2 linked regions of the Homo sapiens genome follow. Each later gene encodes a partner of the first gene's protein in a complex. Each region holds a gene or a part of one and is shown on either strand. Other genes may lie near its edges. The genes, in order: EIF3B and EIF3J. A codon is read from its position in the direction of its gene.

Region 1 (9,062 bases):
CCTTTTGGGTTTCTATGAAGATCTCATTATAGAGGCGTGATTAATGACATCACTGAGCACCGGTGATCAACTCAACTTTCAGCCCTCTTCCTTCTGGGTGGCAGGGGGAGACCTAAAAGGTCCCACCCTCTAATCACGTGGTTGGTTCCCTGGCAAGGAGCCCCAGCCATCAATCAAGTCCTCGTCTACAAAAAGACACTTACCACTTTGGAAATTACAAGGGTTTAGACGCTGAGTGCCAAGAGCCAGGCAGAGCCCAAATACACATTTCTTAATTATATCACAAAGAGCCTTTTTGAAAAACACTATCAGGGCAGAGACCGGCACTTAAACTAGGAGACTGGAGAATATACAAGCTCCTGAAACAACTTTTTTTTTTCTTTGTAAAGAGACAGGGTCTTGTTATGCTGCCCAGGCTAGCCTGGAACTCCTGGGCTCTAGCAATCCTCCTGCCTCAGCCTCCCAAGTAGCAGGGACTACAGGTGGGAGCTGCCACCCCCACTGAGATTAAATAACAGTATTTTTTTCTTAGTGGTAGGTGAAGCTGTTCTTGATGTGATGAAATGCCTCGCAGGGCTGCTGGAAAGCATCACGTGTCAGAATTTAGAACACGGCCAGGCTCAGTGGCTCACGCCTGTAATCCCAGCATTTTGGGAGGCCGAGGCAGGCAGATTACCTGAGGCCAGGAGTTCAAGACCAGCCTGGCCAACATGGTGAAACCTGTCCCTAATAAAAATACGAGAAAAATGATCCAAGCATGGTGGTGGGTGCCTGTAATTCCAGCTACTGGAGAGGCTGGGGCAGGAGAATCGCTTGAACCCAGGAGATGGAGGTTGCAGTGAGCCAAGATCATGCCACTGCACTCCAGCCTGGGAGACAGAGTGAGACTCCATCTCAAATAATAATAATAATGATAATTCCAACATACTAAATATGCAGATGTCCGAAAATATTCTTTACTGTATTTATTCTCAAAAGTTGGCTGGGCATGGTGGCTCACTCCAGCGACAGAGCAAGACTCCGTCTCAAAAAAACACTTTCGGAAATATTGAAAACTGACCCAGCATGGTGGCTCACGCCTGTAATCCCAGCATTTTTGGAAGCCAAGGAAGGCAAATCACATGAGGCCAGGAGTTCGAGACCAGCCTGGCCAACAAGGCAAAACCCCATCTGTATTAAAAATACAAAAAGTAGCCAGGCATGGTGGCACATGCTTATAATCCCAGCTACTTGGGAGGCTGAGGCAGGAAAATCGCTTGAAGCGGGGAGGCAGAGGCTGCGGTGAGCCATTGCACTCCAGTCTGAGCAAGAGAATGAGACTCTGTCTCAAAAAAAAAAAGGAAATATTGAAAATACTGCCTTAAAAAATAATCGCCGTTTTATTTTCAACGATGCTAAAATTGAGACGAACAAGAGAAAAAAAAAGGGAAAAAGGCAGTTGCCAGTCACTGCAGTGCCGGACACCCTGCTATGGAAACTAGTCAAATCCTAGGGTAACTTCTAAAGCACTTACCATACAATTAAATAGCCTGACAAGCCTGATCTGAATTTATAAGGCTGCAATAAAAAGCTCAACTTTTACACAAATTGGGTACTCCTTCCCACAAGCTCAAAGCGTCTAGTCTAGGAGAAACTGCCCACACGTAGGAAGGAAATAAATGAAGTAACTACACCATGAAGACACAACGCCTTGATCACTCTCAGCCCAAGCATCGGTTACACGTGGCTCATGGATTCCCAAGCGGTCTCCAGGAAAAACAGAAGAGAACAATTCTCAACACTAAATAGCAAATAGAAAGAGAAAGAATAGTTAATGAGCCAAAAAAGACATTTAGAGTTAAAATCCTGGATCAGCTGAAACATTAAACTGAAAGGATGATTACAGTTTGAGAAGCTAATCTGTACCAAAAAAGTAATAAAGCAAGACAGGGACTCCAGGCCACCTCTGGCCTGCTCCTTGGAAGACTTGGCCCTTCTGGAAAGAACTGATACAGTCACCTACGGTCTTGCACAATGACCCTGAAGGGCAGCTCTTCTCATAAAGCACAAAACCTGCGTTACCACAACCAGGAGGGCCATGACAAAGTCGGCTTCCTGAGCCTTAGTCCTCAGGACCAGATGCCTCACCTGTCACTCTGGCCAACACTGCACCTTCAGGGCCACGTGGGCCCGCTGAGGACCCACAGCCGTCACCCAGCCTGGCCAACCCTGTCGTCATATTAGCATCCTCTGACTCTTCCCAATTCCAGAAGTAATCTACGTATTAGAAATCTGTGAATTCGATGGGCTCAAATAATGCTTTTTAAAAAAGTAGCAGAATATCCAAGGGCTCAAAATAATCATTAAACCAAAAGTTTTGATTTTTAAACCATAATAACAATTGAAGCGTTAGAAAGAACACTGTTCTGAGCAGGAGAGTCTGGTGGGCCAAGCAGTATAGACCCACTGGGAATTCTCAGCAGCCTACTCCACCTTCAGGGACAAGTTTCCTCAGGACTGAGGGGCGTAGACTAGATGTTCCCAAAGTCTTTAGTTTGTGGTGTCCTTCCTGCTTTTCATGCTAAAATGTCTTTTATGAAAAAAAAAAGTGTAATATAGTAATGGTCACAGTAACTGACAGCGTTTTTATTTTTTAATTTTTCACTTTTTGAGACAGGGTCTCACTCTGTCGCCCAGGCAGTGGTGGGATCTAGGCTCACTGCAACCTCCACCTCCTGGGTTAAAGTGATTCTCGTGCCTCAGCCTCCCAAGTACCTGAGACTACAGGTGTGCACCAGCACACCTGGCTGACTTGTATTTCTGATAACCTTTTTTTCTTTTTCTTTTTTTTTTTTTTTTGAGACGGAGTCTTGCTCTGTCGCCCAGGATGGAGTGCAGTGGCAGGATCTCGGCTCACTGCAAGCTCCGCCTCCCAGGTTCACACCATTCTCCTGCCTCAGCCTCCAGAGTAGCTGGGAAATCCAGGTGCCCGCCACCACGCCCGGCTAATTTTTTTTTATTTTTAGTAGAGACGGGGTTTCACCGTGTTAGCCAGGATGGTGACCTCGTGATCCACCCGTCTCGGCCTCCCAAAGTGCTGGGATTACAGGCGTGAGCCACCCAGCCCGGCCCTCTGATAGCCTTTTAAAAATACGTTTAAATCATAAATTGGCAACTCCATGTTATTCCCGAAATTGTCCTGGTGTATCGCTGGCTACATCAGCAAGGGTATTTTTATTTTTCTCACTCTAGTATCAACTTAGCCAATCTGCAGAGGCTGATGTGTTCCCAACTTAAAGGCTTAAGAGAGCTAAAAAACAAAAGAAAAACAAATGAGACCAGCTCTCATCAGAAGTAGCTTCAGGAAAAAATCTCTGAGACAGGAAGCAAAAATATGCCTGTAAATCCAATCAAGGTTGAGATGAAGGCAAAGCTGGCTGTTATCGGCAATATTAAAACCTGGAAAAATAACTCTCTTTATAGATTTAGCGCAAGAGATAAAGAAAAATCAAACTGGAATTTCACAGGGTGCCTGTCCCACTAAGGAAGTCTCTGGAGATGGACAATTCTGAGGGGCAGGAGGACAAAATCACCGGCTCTGCCACAAGCTGTTCCTCCGATCCAGACCTTGGGAGGTCTGACTGGTCAGCTCTGGGGACACGTAGACCCGCAAACCTGCCACCGGGTCTTCGGTTTTTGCCGTACCCCCAGCTGCTACACTCACAGCACACCCAGCCATAACGGAGTACCCCATGTGCCCTCTCCCACCCTCTCAGATTTCTGGTTGTCATGCAAATGCCTGGCTCCCGAAGTGAGCTCCACCCTGTCCCCTTTTTCAGGAAAGAAAAGGGGAGGCGCTGGGCTCTCAGAACACTTCCAGGGCACTCGGGAACCCCTCCCTCGGTGGCTTCTCAGGAACACACGGACACCCTCGCTGGAACTTCTGCACGAACCGGTGGCACAGCCCGACGATATCTCCCACCTCGGGAACCCCAGCCACGCTCCCGCGCCGCTCGCCAGCCCCGCCCCGGGCGCCCTCACCTTCCTCGCTCACGTCGTCCACGAAGTCCTCGGGGTCGCTGAAGGAGGGCTCGTCCGCGTCGCCGTTCTCCAGCGCCCGGGGTTCGGCCTCGGCCGCTCTGCCCTCGTTTCCTCCCGCGTCCTCGGACACCGCCTGGGCCCGGCTGTCGGAGCGCTCGTCCCGAGCCTGCTCTCCTGGGGCCTCGCCCTGTGCCGGGACAGGGGGCTCAGCATGCGACCCGGGCAGCTCCTCGGCGGCCGGCGGCGAGGGCGACTCGGACGGGCCGGAGGCCGCCTCTGCCTCGGCCGCCGGCTCGGTCCTCACCTCGGACTCCGGCCCGGCCTCCGCGATCCCCACCTCCTCACTGGAGGCCTCGGTCCCCGCGGCCTCCGGAGCGCCGGGCCCCGCGGGCCGCAGCAGCCCCTCGGCTGGCGGCGGCTCGGCGGCCGGCTGCTGCTGGCCGGGCTCGGCGCGCTCCTCGGCCGCCTCGGGCACCGCCACGTTCTCCGCGTCCTGCATGGGCCCAACGCTGCCTACTCGCAGGGCTCCGCGGCCGCCGCGCTTCCGACTCTCCCAGGCCGCACCGCGCGCCGCGACGGCTACAGCCCAGCCATGTGCGTGCGACGGGGAGGCCGCACCAAGGCCGCGGGGCGGGGGGCGCACCCACGCCCTGGGGCCTCACGAACGACCCTGAGAGGACTCGCATCCACAAGACCGCGCCCGAAAATCATCAAACTGATATATTTGTGACAAGAAAGTGCTTAATTCCATTCAGCAAGGTTGTTTCTGTGCATCAGTAAACTCATGGGAGCATTGACCACCCCATGTGTGGCAGCAGATGGTTCCGTCCAACATGGCGTCCTCCCCCTTTCCTTTCCCGTCGGACGCTGCGGGGCGGGACTGAACTATTTGTGGAGCTGAAGGCGGGGACAAGAAATGATTTTAGTACCCGGAATGCTAGGAAAATGTCCTCTAACTCAACAGTTAATACCCTGGAAGAGTGGAGACTCAACAGGCGATTGCTCAGGGCGTCTGAGCCTTTCGCTAGGGAAACCGTTTAGTTTACGTTACTAAAGTCCCCCCTGTCCGTGTCTGTCACTTGGACTCGCCTACTGACTGAGCAAAAGGACAGACTACTTCAAAATAGAAAAGGAATTCGGGGCGAGCCAGAGAGGGCCCACACGACTAGAAGGACGACTGCCTGGCGCGATACAAAAATGTATGGAAGTTTCTTTAATCGCTTACCCCCAGTCCTTCCCTAGCGGCCGTCACTGCCTGTTTCCCCCCATTCGGGCTTTCACAGTGGTTCAGTCCATCCGAGGCCGCCGCCTTCAGCGCGGGACAGCGCGGGTCACGTGGGGGCGGGGGCGGGTCCTCGCCGCGTGGAGCTCGAGGCTGACTCCGGAGGGACCGGAGCGGTTCGCTCTGCGCGGGTGCTCACGGGACGGGCATTGGGTGCATGTGGCTTCTATCTTGTTTTTTGCCGGAGTGGAGGACAACCACTGGTTGGGGGATGTCTTAATCATCCTAGAAAACAACCCAGTGGATCACGCCTGTTATCCCAGCACTTTGGGAGGCTGAGGTGGGAAGATCGCTTGAGCTTAGGAGTTGGAGACCAGCCTTGCCAACATAGCACCACCACCCCCCGCACGCCAGCCCTCATCTCTACGAAAATTAAATAAATAAATAAAACAGGTGGTACCCAGAGGCTGGGGTGGAGAGTGGGGAGTGTTTATCGGGGACGGACCTTCAATTTGGGAGGATGAGAACGTTTTGGAGATGACGGTGGTGATGGTACAACATGGTGAATGTACTTGATGCCACTGAACTGTATACTAAACTTCATATTAAAATGGCTAGGCCCTGCGCGGTGGCTCACACCTCTCTTCCCAGTACTTTGGGAGGCCAAGACAGGAGGATCACTTGAGCCCAAGAGTTCAAGACCAGTCAGGGCAACATAGCGAGACCCTGTCTTCGAAAAAATAAAATAAAATGCCAAAAAGGTAAATTTTATGTATATTTCATCCTATAGTTTTTTTGTTTTGTTTGTTTTCAGAGATAGGGTCTCGCTCTGTTGCCCAGGCTAGAGTGCGGTGGCATAATCACAGCGCCGCTGCAATCGGGACCTTCCAGCCTCAAGAGAATCCTCCCACCTCAGCCTCCCAAAGTGCCAGGATTACAAGCGTGAACCACCGCGCAGGGCCTAGCCATTTTAATATGCAATTTAGTGTACAGTTCAGTGACATTAAGTACATTGCCAAGTACTTGGGACTGAAGGTATGTGCCACCGTGCCCAGCTAATTTCTTTATTTGTAGATAGCATCTCACTGTGTTGCCCAGGCTGGTCTCAAACTCCTGGCCTCAAGCAGTCTTCCTCCCTCAGCTTCCCAAAGTGCCGGGACTATAGGCATGAGCCACCACACCCATCCCATCCTAACGGTGTTTAAAAGAGCGAAAAAGAAGCAGAGTCTTCCCATGCCTAGTACCAGGTTTGACTACTCCTCATCATGCTGTCAGTGGTGTATCTTTGGGCAGGTCACTTAATGCCTCCACCTCAGTTTCCGCATCTGTACAATAAGGGATGACAATTTTTTTTTTTTTTATTTAGACGGAGTGTTGCTCTGTCGCCTAGGCTGGAGTGCAGTGGCACGATCTCGGCTCACTGCAAGCTCCACCTCCCGGGTTCACGCCATTCTCTTGCCTCAGCCTCCCAAGTAGCTGGGAATACAGGTGCCCGCCACCACGCCTGGCTGATTTTTTTTGTATTTTTTTAGTAGAGACGAGGTTTCACCGTATTAGCCAGGATGGTCTCGATCTCCTGACCTTGTGATCCGCCTGCCTCGGCCTCCCAAAGTGCTGGGATTACAGGTGTGAGCCAATACGCCTGGGAGTATGTTTTTTCTACATATGCATGCTTACAATAGGGCACAGTAAGAGATTAACAGCAATAACTAATAGAACAATTATAACAATATATTGTCATAAAAGTTATGTGGATGTGGTGTCTGGTGGTGTGTCTGTGTCTCTCTCTGTCAAATTTTCTTCATTATGTAATATTTTCCAACCTAATTGACCATAAGTAACTGAAACAGTGCAATGTGAAACTGGGGGTCGGGGGGGCTACTGTGTTTGGAAGCAGTCTTCCCAGATGTAATCAAGATGAAGTCAAAGTGGACGAGAGTGGACCCTAAATCAGTGATTGATGTCCTTATTAGAAGAAGGAAATTATGGCCGGGCATGGTGGCTCACACCTGTAATCCCAGCACTTTGGGAGGCCAAGGTGGGCGGATGCATTACATGAGGTCAGGAGTTCGAGACCAGCCTGAACAACATGGTGAAACCCCATCTCTACTAAAAATACAAAAATTAGCCAGGCATGGTGGCACATGCCTGTAATCTCAGCTACTCAGGAGGCTGAGGCGGGAGAATCACTTGTACCCTGGAGGCAGAGGGCGTAGTGAGCGGAGATTGCACCATTTCACTCCAGCCTGGGCAACGAGCAAAAATCCATCTCAAAAAAAAAAAAAAAAAAAAACCAACAACAACAACAAAAACTTACTCGATTTTTTGTTTTTATTATTATCTTTATTTATTTATTTATTTATTTTTTGAGATGGAGTCTCACTCTGTCGCCCAGGCTGGAGTGCAGTGGTGCTATCTCGGATCACTGCAAGCTCCACCTCCCGGGTTCAAGCAATTCTCCTGCCTCAGCCTCCCGAGTAGCTGGGACTACAGGCGCCTGCCACCACACCCGGCTAATTTTTTGTATTTTTAGTAGAGACGGGTTTCATCCTGTTAGTCAGGATGGTCTCACTCTCCTGACCTCGTGATCCGCCCGCCTTGGCCTCCCGAAGTGCTGGGATTACAGGCGTGAGCCACTGCGCCTGGCCTATTATTATTTTTTAACAGGGTCTCACTCTGTCACCCAGGCTGGAGTACAGTGGTGCCGTCGCACCTCACTGTAGCTTCAGTCTCACAGGCTCACCTTAGCTTCCTGAGTATCTGGTAGTACAGATCCACACCACCACATCGGGCTACCTTTTTGTTTTTCTGTAGAGATGGGGTCTCACTATGTTGCTCAGTCTGGTCTTCAACTCCTGGGCTCAAGCAGTTCTCCCAACTCTGCCTCCCAAAGTGCTACAGGCATGAGCCAGCAGGCCTGGCCTCCGCTGGTCTATTTCTGAGCCTCTGAGGTGAAGGAGTGGGAAACCTGAGGCACCGCACCAACCCTGGCAGCAGAGATGGCCGGATGAGGCTCCCAGGCTGACCTGCAGCGTGGCCTGTGTTGTGCTTCCAGGGGTAGATTTTTTTCTTTTTGTTTTTGAGACAAGGTCTCACTCTGTCACCCAGGCCGGGAGCACAGTGGCGCAATCATGGCTCACTGCAGCCTCAAACTCCCAGGCTCGTGATCCTCCCGCCGCCTCCTCCTGAGTAGTTGAGACTATAGGCGTGCACCACTGTGCCCGGCTAATTTTTTAAATTGTTTATTTAGAGAGCGAGGCACAGTGGCTCCCACCGGTAATCCCAGCACTTTGGGAGAGTGAGGCAGGAGGATCACTTGAGGTCAGGAGTTCAAGACTAGCCTGGCCAACATGGTGAAACCCTATCTCTACTAAAAATACAAAATTTAGCCGGGTGTGGCCGCAGGCGCCTGTAATCCCAGCTACTCAGGAGGCTGAGGCAGGAGGATCACTTGAGCCCAGGAGGCAGAGGCTGCAGTGAGCCGAGGTTGTGCCACTGCACTCCAACCTAAATGACAGAGTGAGACTCTGTGTCAAAAAAAAAAAATTGTTTTTAGAGATGGGGGAGAGTGTCTCACTGTTAGCCCAAGCTGGTCTTGAACTCCTGGCTTAGAGCAAACCTTCTGCGTTGGCCTCCCAAAGTGCTGGGATTATAGGCATGAGCCACCGCGCTCGGCCCAGGGGTAAGCTTTAATTTCCCTCAAAACTCTTTCTAAAGAAACGTGACTTCATTTTAAGGCCAAATTTATAGTTTCCGTGAAATTATAAGTTTTATGGGTTTGTTGCATTTCTATTGATATTAACATTGGTTCATAACTATG
Region 2 (9,218 bases), on another chromosome or scaffold:
TGGATTTTAGGCACTCCCTGAGGAAGGCATGTTTTTTCCGCTGGCCAGACAGGAATAGGAAGGTACTGTAGGATTTTATGGTACCCTGTAAGTATGGAAAAATATATGGAAGTTGAATGGAGACAGTTTCGTGTCTTAAGACTCATGGGGGTAGGGTTTTGGTTTTTCGTTTTGGTTTAAAATAAAAAATTTCATTTAACTTAATCAAATCATATAAATCAAAAACTTTATTTATTTAATTATTGAGATGTAATCTTGCTCTGTTGTCCAGGCTGGAGTGCAGTGGTGGGATCTCAGCTCCCTGCAACCTCTGCCTCCCGGGTTCCAGCGATTCTCCCGCCTCAGCCTCCCTAGTAGCTGGGACTACAGGCGTGCACCATGATGCTCAGCCAATTTTTGTATTTTTAGTAGAGACAGGGTTTCACCATGTTGGCCAGGCTGGGCTCAAACTCCTGACCTCAAGTGATCCACCCGCCTGCCTTGGCCTCCCAAAGTTCTGGGATTACAGGCATGAGCCACTGTGCTCTGCCAAAATTTGTTTTTACATGTACTCTTTTTCCCAAGAAATCATTAGAAAAAACATGCAATGACTCCATAATTTTGCACTTTTATAAATAGGAGTTTTGACCTGCCCCTATTTCCAATTAAAACAATCTGCTCTTCAGCCTTAACCTAGTCCATCTTTATAAGATTTTGAGTCTGATGCTTAAGGTACTTCCTCTTAAAAAGAAGCTATAAAGGGGCCGGGCGCATGGCTCACACCTGTAATCCTAGCACTTTGGAAGGCCGAGGCGGGCGGATCACGAGGTCAGGAGATCAAGACCACGGTGAAACCCCGTCTCTACTAAAAATACAAAAAAAATTAGCCGGGCGCGGTGGCGGGCACCTGTAGCCCCAGCTACTCGGGAGGCTGAGGCAGGAGAATGGCGTGAACCCAGGAGGCGGATCTTGCAGTGAGCCGAGATTGTGCCACTGCACTCCAGCCTGGGTAACAGAGCGAGAGTCCATCTCAAAAAAAAAAAAAAAAAAAAAAAAAAAGAACTCTAAGGCCAGGCACAATGGCTCACACCTGTAATCCCTGCACTTTGGGAGGCTGAGGCGGGGGGATCACCTGAGGTTAGGAGTTCGAGACCAGCCTGGCCAACACGATGAAACCCATCTCTACTAAAACTACAAAAAATTATCTGGGCATGGTGGCACACACTTGTAATCCCAGCTGCTCAGGAGGCTGAGGCAGGAGAATCACTGGAACCTGGGAGGCAGAGGTTGCCGTGAGCAGAGATTGCGCCAGCCTGGGCAACGAGAGCAAAATGTCATCTCAAAAAAAAGAACCTATAAGTAGCTCTGCTTCATTTGTGTTGTTTATTTACTCTTCTATAGCTTCAATGATGAAACTTTTTTTTTTTTTTTGACATGAAGTCTCACTCTGTTACTTAGTCTGGAGTGCAGTGGCGGGATCTCAGCTCACTGCAACCTCCACCTCCTGGGTTCAAGTGATTCTCCTGCCTCAGCCTCCTGAGTAGCTGGTGGAACTCCTGAGTTCAGGTGATCCACCCGTCTCTGCCTCCCAAAGTGCTCGGATGACAGGCATAAGCCACTGCACCCAGCCATGAGGAAACTTTTTTTGAGACGGGCTGGCTCTGTCATCCAGGCTGGAGTGCAGTGGCACGATCATGGCTCACTGCAACCTCAACCTCCCAGGCTCAAGTGGCCCTCCCACTTCAGCCCCCTGAGTAGCAGGAACTACAGGTGTGTGCCACCATGCCCAGCTAATTTTTTATTTTTTGTAGAGATGGAGTCTTGCCATGTTGCCCAGGCTGGTCTTGAAATGAGCTCAAGTGATCCTCCTGCCTCAGCCTTCCTAAGTGCCGGCATTTTAGATGTGAGCCACTGTGCCTGGCCTGGAACTTCCTGACAGAAGTTTTAATGTTAATTTGTTAAGAAACATTGATTACCTAGTCTGCTCATCTGTAAAATGGGAATACTGTCACTGTCTTTGTGATTATAGAGCTCCCCTAGAGACTAACCTGTGAATCACAAGTTTTTTTGTGTGTTTGTTTTGAGACAGAGACTCGCTCTGTTGCCCAGGCTGGGTGCAGTGGCATGATCTTGGCTCACTGCAACCTCTGCCTCCTGGGTTCAAGCGATTCTCCTGCCTCAGCCTTCCAAATAGCTGGGATTACAGGAGTGCACCACCACATCCGGCTATTTTTTTGTATTTTTAGTAGAGACGGGGGTATCACCAGGTTGGCCAGCCTGGTCTTGGAACTCCTGACTTCAGGTGATCCACCTGCCTCAGCCACCCAAAGTGCTGGGATTACAGGTGTGAGCCACCACGCCTGGCACAAGTTTTACAGACTAAAGGAAGTCCCTAATACATAGGTCTAGAACCTTGTTTTCCTGTTTCCTCATTTGAAAAAGCAGTATGCACACCACTATAAATAAATTCTCAATTTCTGCTTTGAAAACAATGCTGCATACACATAGCCCATGAATTTTTCCATAGCACCTTCAACCCACATGCCCCAGTTTTTTTTTTTTTTTCTTTTCTTTTTTTTTTTTTTGATAGAGTGTCATCCAGGCTGGAGTGCAGTGGCACAATCTCAGCTCACTACAACCTCTGCCTCCTGGGTTCAAACCATTGTCCTGCCTCAACCTCCCAAGTAGCTGGAATTATAGGCATGAGCCACTATACCTGGCTAATTTTTGTATTTTTAGTAGAGACAGGTTTCACCATGTCCAGGCTAGTCTCGAACTACTGACCTCAAGTGATCCACCCACCTCGGCCTCCCAAAGTGCTGGGATTACAGGCATGAGCCACCGCGCCCAGCCTTCTTCTTTTTTTTTGAGAGGGAGTTTCGCTCGTCGCCCAGGCTAAAGTGCAATGGCGCGATCTTAGCTCACTGCAACTTCTGCCTCCCGGTTCAAGTGATTCTCCTGCCTCATCTTCCCGAGTAGCTGGTATTACGGTGCCCGCCAACATGCCCAGCTAATTTTTTTTTTATTTTTAGTAGAGATGGGGTTTGCCACATTGGCCAGGCTGGTCTTGAACTCCTGACCTCAGGTGATCCGCCCGCCTCAGCCTCCTAAAGTGCTGGGATTACAGGCGTGAGCCACTGTGCCCAGCATTTTTTTTTGTTGTTTGTTTTCAGATGGAGTCTCTCCCAGGCTGGAGTGGAGTAGCACAATCTCGGCTCACTGCAACCTCTGTTTCCTGGGTTCAAGCAATTTTCCTGCTTTAGCCTCCTGAGGAGCTGGGGTTACAGGCATGTGCCACCACGCCCGGCTAATTTTTGTATTTTTAGTGGTCTTGGGGTTTCATCATGTTGGCCAGGCTGGTCTTGAATTACTTCAAATGATCTGCCTGCCTCAGCCTCCCTAAGTGCTGGGATTACAGGCGTGAGCCCGTAATAGGCGTGCCTAACCAGTTTTCAGGTTTTTGACTTAAGCAACTAGATAAGTGTCACTCAATATCCAAAGGCATCGTCTATCTATTTCTCCCTTCCCCTCCTCCTTCATATCTAGTCAGACACTATATTAGTACGGGTTCTCCAGAGAAACAGAATCAATAGGATGTGTATATGCAGAAAGAGATTTATTTTAAGGAATTGGCTCACATTATTCTGGGAGCTGGCAAGTCTGAAATCTGCAGGGCAGACAAACAGCCTGGAGACCCAGGGAGATTTGACGCTGCAGTCTGGAGGCTGAATTGCTTCTTCTTAAGGGTCTCGTTTTAATTTGAACTGACCGGATGCGGCCCACCCTCATTATAGAGGGTAATGTACTTTAATCAAAGTCTGCTGATTTAAATGTTAATCACATCTAACAAATACAATTCATAGCAACAACTAGACTAGTGTTTGACCAAAAACTGAGTAACATGGGTAGCATCGCCTAGCCAAGTTGATAGATAAAATTAACCATTAAAGTCACTAAGTTCCATTGACAATGACCTTTAAATATTTCTCAAGTTGGTTTCTTCTTCTCCATTGCCATTGCCTTAATTTAGGCTTGTGTTCTCGTTTAATTAATTCATAAAATACTTACGTATTAGGCATTATGCCAAATGTTGGAGATACAATTGTGAGTAAGATTGTGTCCTTAGGGACTTACATTCCACCCTTTTCCTGACTTCTTTCTTGCCTCCTTCCAATCCACATTTTTTTTTTTTTTTGGTCTTGTCACTTTGATGCCCAGGCTGGAGTGTAGTGGCCAGAACGTGGCTCACTGCAGCCTCAACTGCCTCAGCTTCCTGAGTAGCTGGGACCACAGGACCACAGGTGCACACCACTATGCCTGGATATATATATTTTTTTGTAAAGATGGGGTCTCACCATGTTGGCCAGGTTGGTCTCGAACTCCTGGGCTCAAGCGATCCTCCCGCTTTGGCCTCCCACAGTGCCGGGATTACAGACGTTGAGCCACCGTGTCCGGCCCTGATCCACCTTTATAAATGGCTGTCTGTAGATCATGGCCTCTCACATTTTAACTGGGCTGTAGAATATGTATTGAAGGATCATCTTTATAAAATGTTTATTTGTAGACTCTGAAAAGATAACACCAGAAAGGGGGAACAATGGTTACCACTAGAAAGAACGGAGCGGAGCAGCTGATCGTTGTATCTACCTTTTTTGTTTTTTTTTTTTTTTTGAGACGGGTCTAACTGTCGCCCAGGCTGGAGAGCCGTGGCGCGATCTCGGCTCACTGTTGCAACCTCCGCCTCCCGGGTTCAAGCGATTCTCCTGCCTCAGCCTCCCTAGTAGTGGGGATTACAGGCGCCCGCCACCACGCCCAGGTGATTTTTGTATTTTTAGTAGAGGTGGGGTTTTACCATGTTGGCCAGGCTGGTCTCGAACTCCTGACAGCAAATGATCCGCCCATCTCGGCCTCCCAAAATGCTGGGATTACAGGCGTGAGCCACCGCGTCCTGCCCACGTATCTACCTTTTTATCACATGAATGTTGTACCAAGTTCGCGTATTACATATTTGAAAATAAATTGCGAAAATAACAAAAACAAAATCCATCTACTGGCTAGCTCTTTAAAATCCTGCGGGGGAGCCCAGTGGCCCAACGGCGAAGTTTAGCCCATCTTGCCCTTTCTGGTCAGTGTACCTGTTCCATTTATCTCTGACTGCGCCACTCAGTCAGGTGAGGGACCACTGGAGTTTTCTACCGGAAATGCACTTCAGCAAATGCCACTTGCTCTCTCCAACTTCAGTTTCAACCAGCGCCTACCTCAGGAAGCCTTCCTTCATCCTCCGGCCCCCGCCGCCGCTAAGGTTATCCTTTTACATTCAACCTCATAATGCTGCTTTTTGTGGCAGTCATCACAGTGTCGAAATTTGTTTACATGTCCATCTTTGCTACTTGATGGAGGGCAAAGATACACCTCATACCTAGCATAGACCCCAGGAGGTCCGAAATTGTTCTGCGAAAGAAAAAAAAATCAATGTGCTGGCCTCAAAGGGGCTCACAGGAAGGGAAAAGCCTCGAAGACTAAGGCTCTCTTCGATTCCTTCGTGACTAACTCGAGGCAAACATGCCAGGAACGCGGCTCTCCCCACCCGCTCCTGCATCTGCGCCCGGGGATCGCCGGATTCCAGAGGGGTCCCCTCCACCTAGCGCGCGACGACTCCCTCTGGGGTCCCGGAAGCCCGGCCACCGACCCCACAGGCGGGCGTGGCCTCAGAGCCCTCTTCTGAGCACGGCGTGGGTATCCGCAGGCGGCCATGGACGGTGATCACAGTGACCAGAGGGACAGCGCACCCTCCGGTCGAAGCGGGGTAGGCGTTGGCAGGGGAGGGGCGACGAAGACTGGCGAGGTTCAGGCGCCAGCCAAAGAACCACTCTGCTAACTTCCTGGCACTTACGTTTCCTACCCGGGGCCCAGAGTCGGGCGGCGGTCTTCCAGCACCACGAACTCCAGTACTGGTCTGCGTTGTAGGGAGCTGGAAGCCCGACCCAGCACTCCTCAGCCCCCTGTGCCCCTCCCTCTGCTCTTTCCGCCCCTCCCTCCGCCCCCCTCCGCCCCCCCCTCCGCCTCTCCCTCAGCCCCGCAGCGCCACCGACCGCGTTCCCCGCCCACTTCTTACCCGCGCGCGTCGCCGCCGCCGCCTGAGGGGGCGTGGCCTCGGCTCGGCGCACAGTCAGCCACGGTCCCATCCTGCTCCGCGCCGGTCAACGAGAGCAAACCCAGTGACTCACCTCCGCCGTGCTAACTCCTCGCTAGCTCTCCCTCTCACACACGCTCACACCCGGCTCGAGATGGCGGCGGCGGCGGCGGCGGCGGGGGACTCGGACTCCTGGGGTGAGGAGAAGTTGCTGGGGCAGGGCCCGGGCCGGCGCCGGCCCCACGCAGTGGCAGGCACTAACACGGCTCGCTTTCTTCCGTAGACGCCGACGCTTTCTCCGTGGAAGACCCAGTGCGGAAGGTGGGGGGCGGCGGCACTGCCGGCGGGGACCGCTGGGAAGGCGAGGACGAGGACGAGGACGTCAAGGTGGGTGCGGGCTAGGGCGCCGGGCAGCGCGGAAGCGGGCTGGCGCTGTTGCCGGCCGACTCTGGGCCCCGGGTCGCTGCCGGGGCCTGCGGGCCGTGGGTCCAGGCGCGAGCATAGGGCCTGGCGGTGCTCTCTTCCCCTCCGCTTGCCGGCCATGTGTGGGCCGAAGACTGGCAGCGTGGCCTCCCGGACTCCCTCGCCGGTTGAGAGTCTGCTCTCCGGCGTGGATCCCACCCGCCGGCTGGCGACGAAAGGTGACAGCATCGGCCGGGTCGGCCCACGTGCAAGCTTCGCGGTCCGGAGCCTCTCGCAGGAATGAGACCGGGAAGTTGGGAATTGAGCCTTGTAGCTTATCCATATGGAAAGCCTTGAGACTCGCCTGTCTTTTCGAGCTCAAGTCAGCCCAGGGCCAGTAACTCATTTATGACCCTGAGGTCTACTTATACAGTTTGTTCGAGGGATTAGATGAGTGAAATATTGTAGTTGAATTTCAACCTTTTTTTCCCACACGAGACAGCTAGAAACAGTAAAGGGAAATAACTTTTGGCTCTCCCTTCCCCCACCCTGTGGTAAAAAGAATGAACTGACCACTGAGATAGCCCGCAGTTAGTGGACAGAAACCCAGGTAGTTCACACCGTGACCTGAGAAATGGAGAGACGACAGTTACTCAACTACACACATACGACACCTAAGGAAATATTGAAGATTTGGTGGTGGTTGTAGATGACGGGCCCGTGGTTTTTTGTTGTTGTTGTTGTTTTGTCTGTGCCTTGTAGATAATCATTTTTACCTCAGTCGTTTGATTTTGAAAACTCCGAAGGGTTCATTATACAGCTGTAAGTGACATTTACTTCTACATGGTTTTTTTTTTTTTTTACAGTAGTTACAGAAGTCTCAAATCCAAAATGTTAAGACTCTTATTAACAAAGTTCTCAAAATCTTGTTATATTTGTGCAGATAAAGTTTTGTGTGAAATGGAAAATGATTTTTTTTTGTGGTTTTGCCTAATTTAGTGAATTTCTCCTAATTTATAAACACAAACGGAGAACCCTATAAATCCTGCCTGGGCTGAAAAGTTTAAGCTAGATAATCACTATGAACTTAATAGGAATGTTGTTTTGAGTTTTTCTGTTCTCTCCCCAGTCCGATGAGGTTGGATGTGTGGATGTCCGATTTACTGACAGCCTGAGGTTCAAGAATGTTGTGAGCTTTGCACACATTGAAGTTAATAAATCGACTGGTTATTGTTTGAAGACACTCAGATGCTTTATTTACATGTTGTAGAAACATGGGACTAGATTTTGTTACCAGCCGCATTACAAGATATTAGTTACCCCTCTACATTGTAGCAGATTTTCAGTTTTGAGCCTTGGGTTCATATTGGTCCTTTCATTTTTTTCCATGCATATAGGAAGTGGCAGTTAAGACATCTGTTATGAAATTTGGGAATAAATTAACAAATGCAGAGAAAAGATTAGAGATATTAGGAAAGAAGTTGCAGAAAATGAAGTTTTAATGGATAGTCTAGACTAATGTCATGGAATAACTTCCTTGGGATTAAGGGATCTAAATGGTATCGATCTTGATGAATATAATTCTTTTTTTTTTTTTTTTTGAGATGGAGTTTCGCTCTTGTTGCCCAGGCTGGAGTGCAATGGCGCGATCTTGGCTCACTGCAACCTCCACCTCCTGGGTTCAAGTGATTCTCCTGCTTCAGCCTCCCAAGTAGCTGGGATTACAGGCACGCACCACCACGCCTGGCTAATTTTGTATTTTTAGTAGAGACGGGGTTTCGCCATGTTGCCCAGGCTGGTCTTGAACTTCTGACCTCAGGTGATTCTCCTGCCTTAGCCTCCCAAAGTGCTGGAATTATAGGCGTGAGCTACCGTACCCAGCCTCTGATGAATATAATTCTGATCACTTGGAACAAGTTTTGGATATTTACAAGTTGTAAGGGACCACAAAGATTATCTTGTCCAGTTGCTCTTTTTTTTTTGGAAATGGAGTCTCGCTCTGTCACCCAGGCTGGAGTGCAGTGGCACAATCTCCGCTCACTGCAAGCTCCGCCTCCCAGGTTCACTCCATTCTCCTGCCTCAGCCTCCCGAGGACTACAGGTGCCCACCACCACGCCCGGCTAATTTTTTCTATTTTTAGTAGAGACGGGGTTTCACCGTGTTAGCCAGGATGGTCTCAATCTCCTGACCTTGTGATCTGCCCGCCTTGGCCTCCCAAAGTGCTGGGATTACAGGCGTGAGCCACCACACCCGGCCCCAGTTGCTGTTTTAGTGCTAAATTTCTTTTTCTTTTTTTTTTTTTTTTTTAACTTAAAGCAATCTATCTATTCATCTAATTTTTTGAGAGAAGGTCTCACCCCGTTTCCCAGGCTGGAGTGCAGTGGCACGATCTCTGCAACCTCCGCCTCCCGGATTCAAGTGATTCTCCAGCCTCAGCCTTTCTAGTAGCTGGGATTACAGGTGTGCACCGCCGTGCCCAGCTAATTTACATATTTTTTTCTTTTTTTTTTTTTTGAGATAGAGTCTTGCTCTGTCACCCAGGCTGGAGTGCCGTGGCACGATCTTGGCTCACTGCAACCTCCGCCTCCCAGGTTCAAGCAGTTCTCTGCCTCAGCCTCCCGAGTAGCTGGGATTACAAGCGCCCACCACCACACCCAGCTAATTTTTGTATTTTTAGTAGAGACGGGGTTTCACCATCTTGGC

What was found.
Region 2: the proteins of EIF3B (region 1) and EIF3J are in contact, whole or in part, in an NMR structure (PDB 2KRB), measured with the Homo sapiens proteins. Residues at the interface, in NP_001032360.1 of Homo sapiens: Lys202, Asn205, Val206, Ile207, Lys209, Ile210, Lys213, Asn249, Ala250, Asp251, Gly252, Tyr253, Lys254, Leu255, Phe261; in NP_003749.2 of Homo sapiens: Asp45 (codon at 6,485), Glu46 (codon at 6,488), Asp50, Asn51, Trp52, Asp53, Asp54, Asp55.

The regions. Positions count from the first base shown.
Region 1 is NC_000007.14:2,350,379-2,359,440, reverse strand, and holds the start of EIF3B (eukaryotic translation initiation factor 3 subunit B), read right to left. Parts: upstream 4,615-9,062; 5' UTR 4,520-4,614; coding exon 4,021-4,519; intron 1-4,020.
Region 2 is NC_000015.10:44,530,929-44,540,146, forward strand, and holds the start of EIF3J (eukaryotic translation initiation factor 3 subunit J), read left to right. Parts: upstream 1-6,218; 5' UTR 6,219-6,266; coding exon 6,267-6,309; intron 6,310-6,395; coding exon 6,396-6,499; intron 6,500-9,218. UniProt on the Homo sapiens protein: Component of the eukaryotic translation initiation factor 3 (eIF-3) complex, which is required for several steps in the initiation of protein synthesis.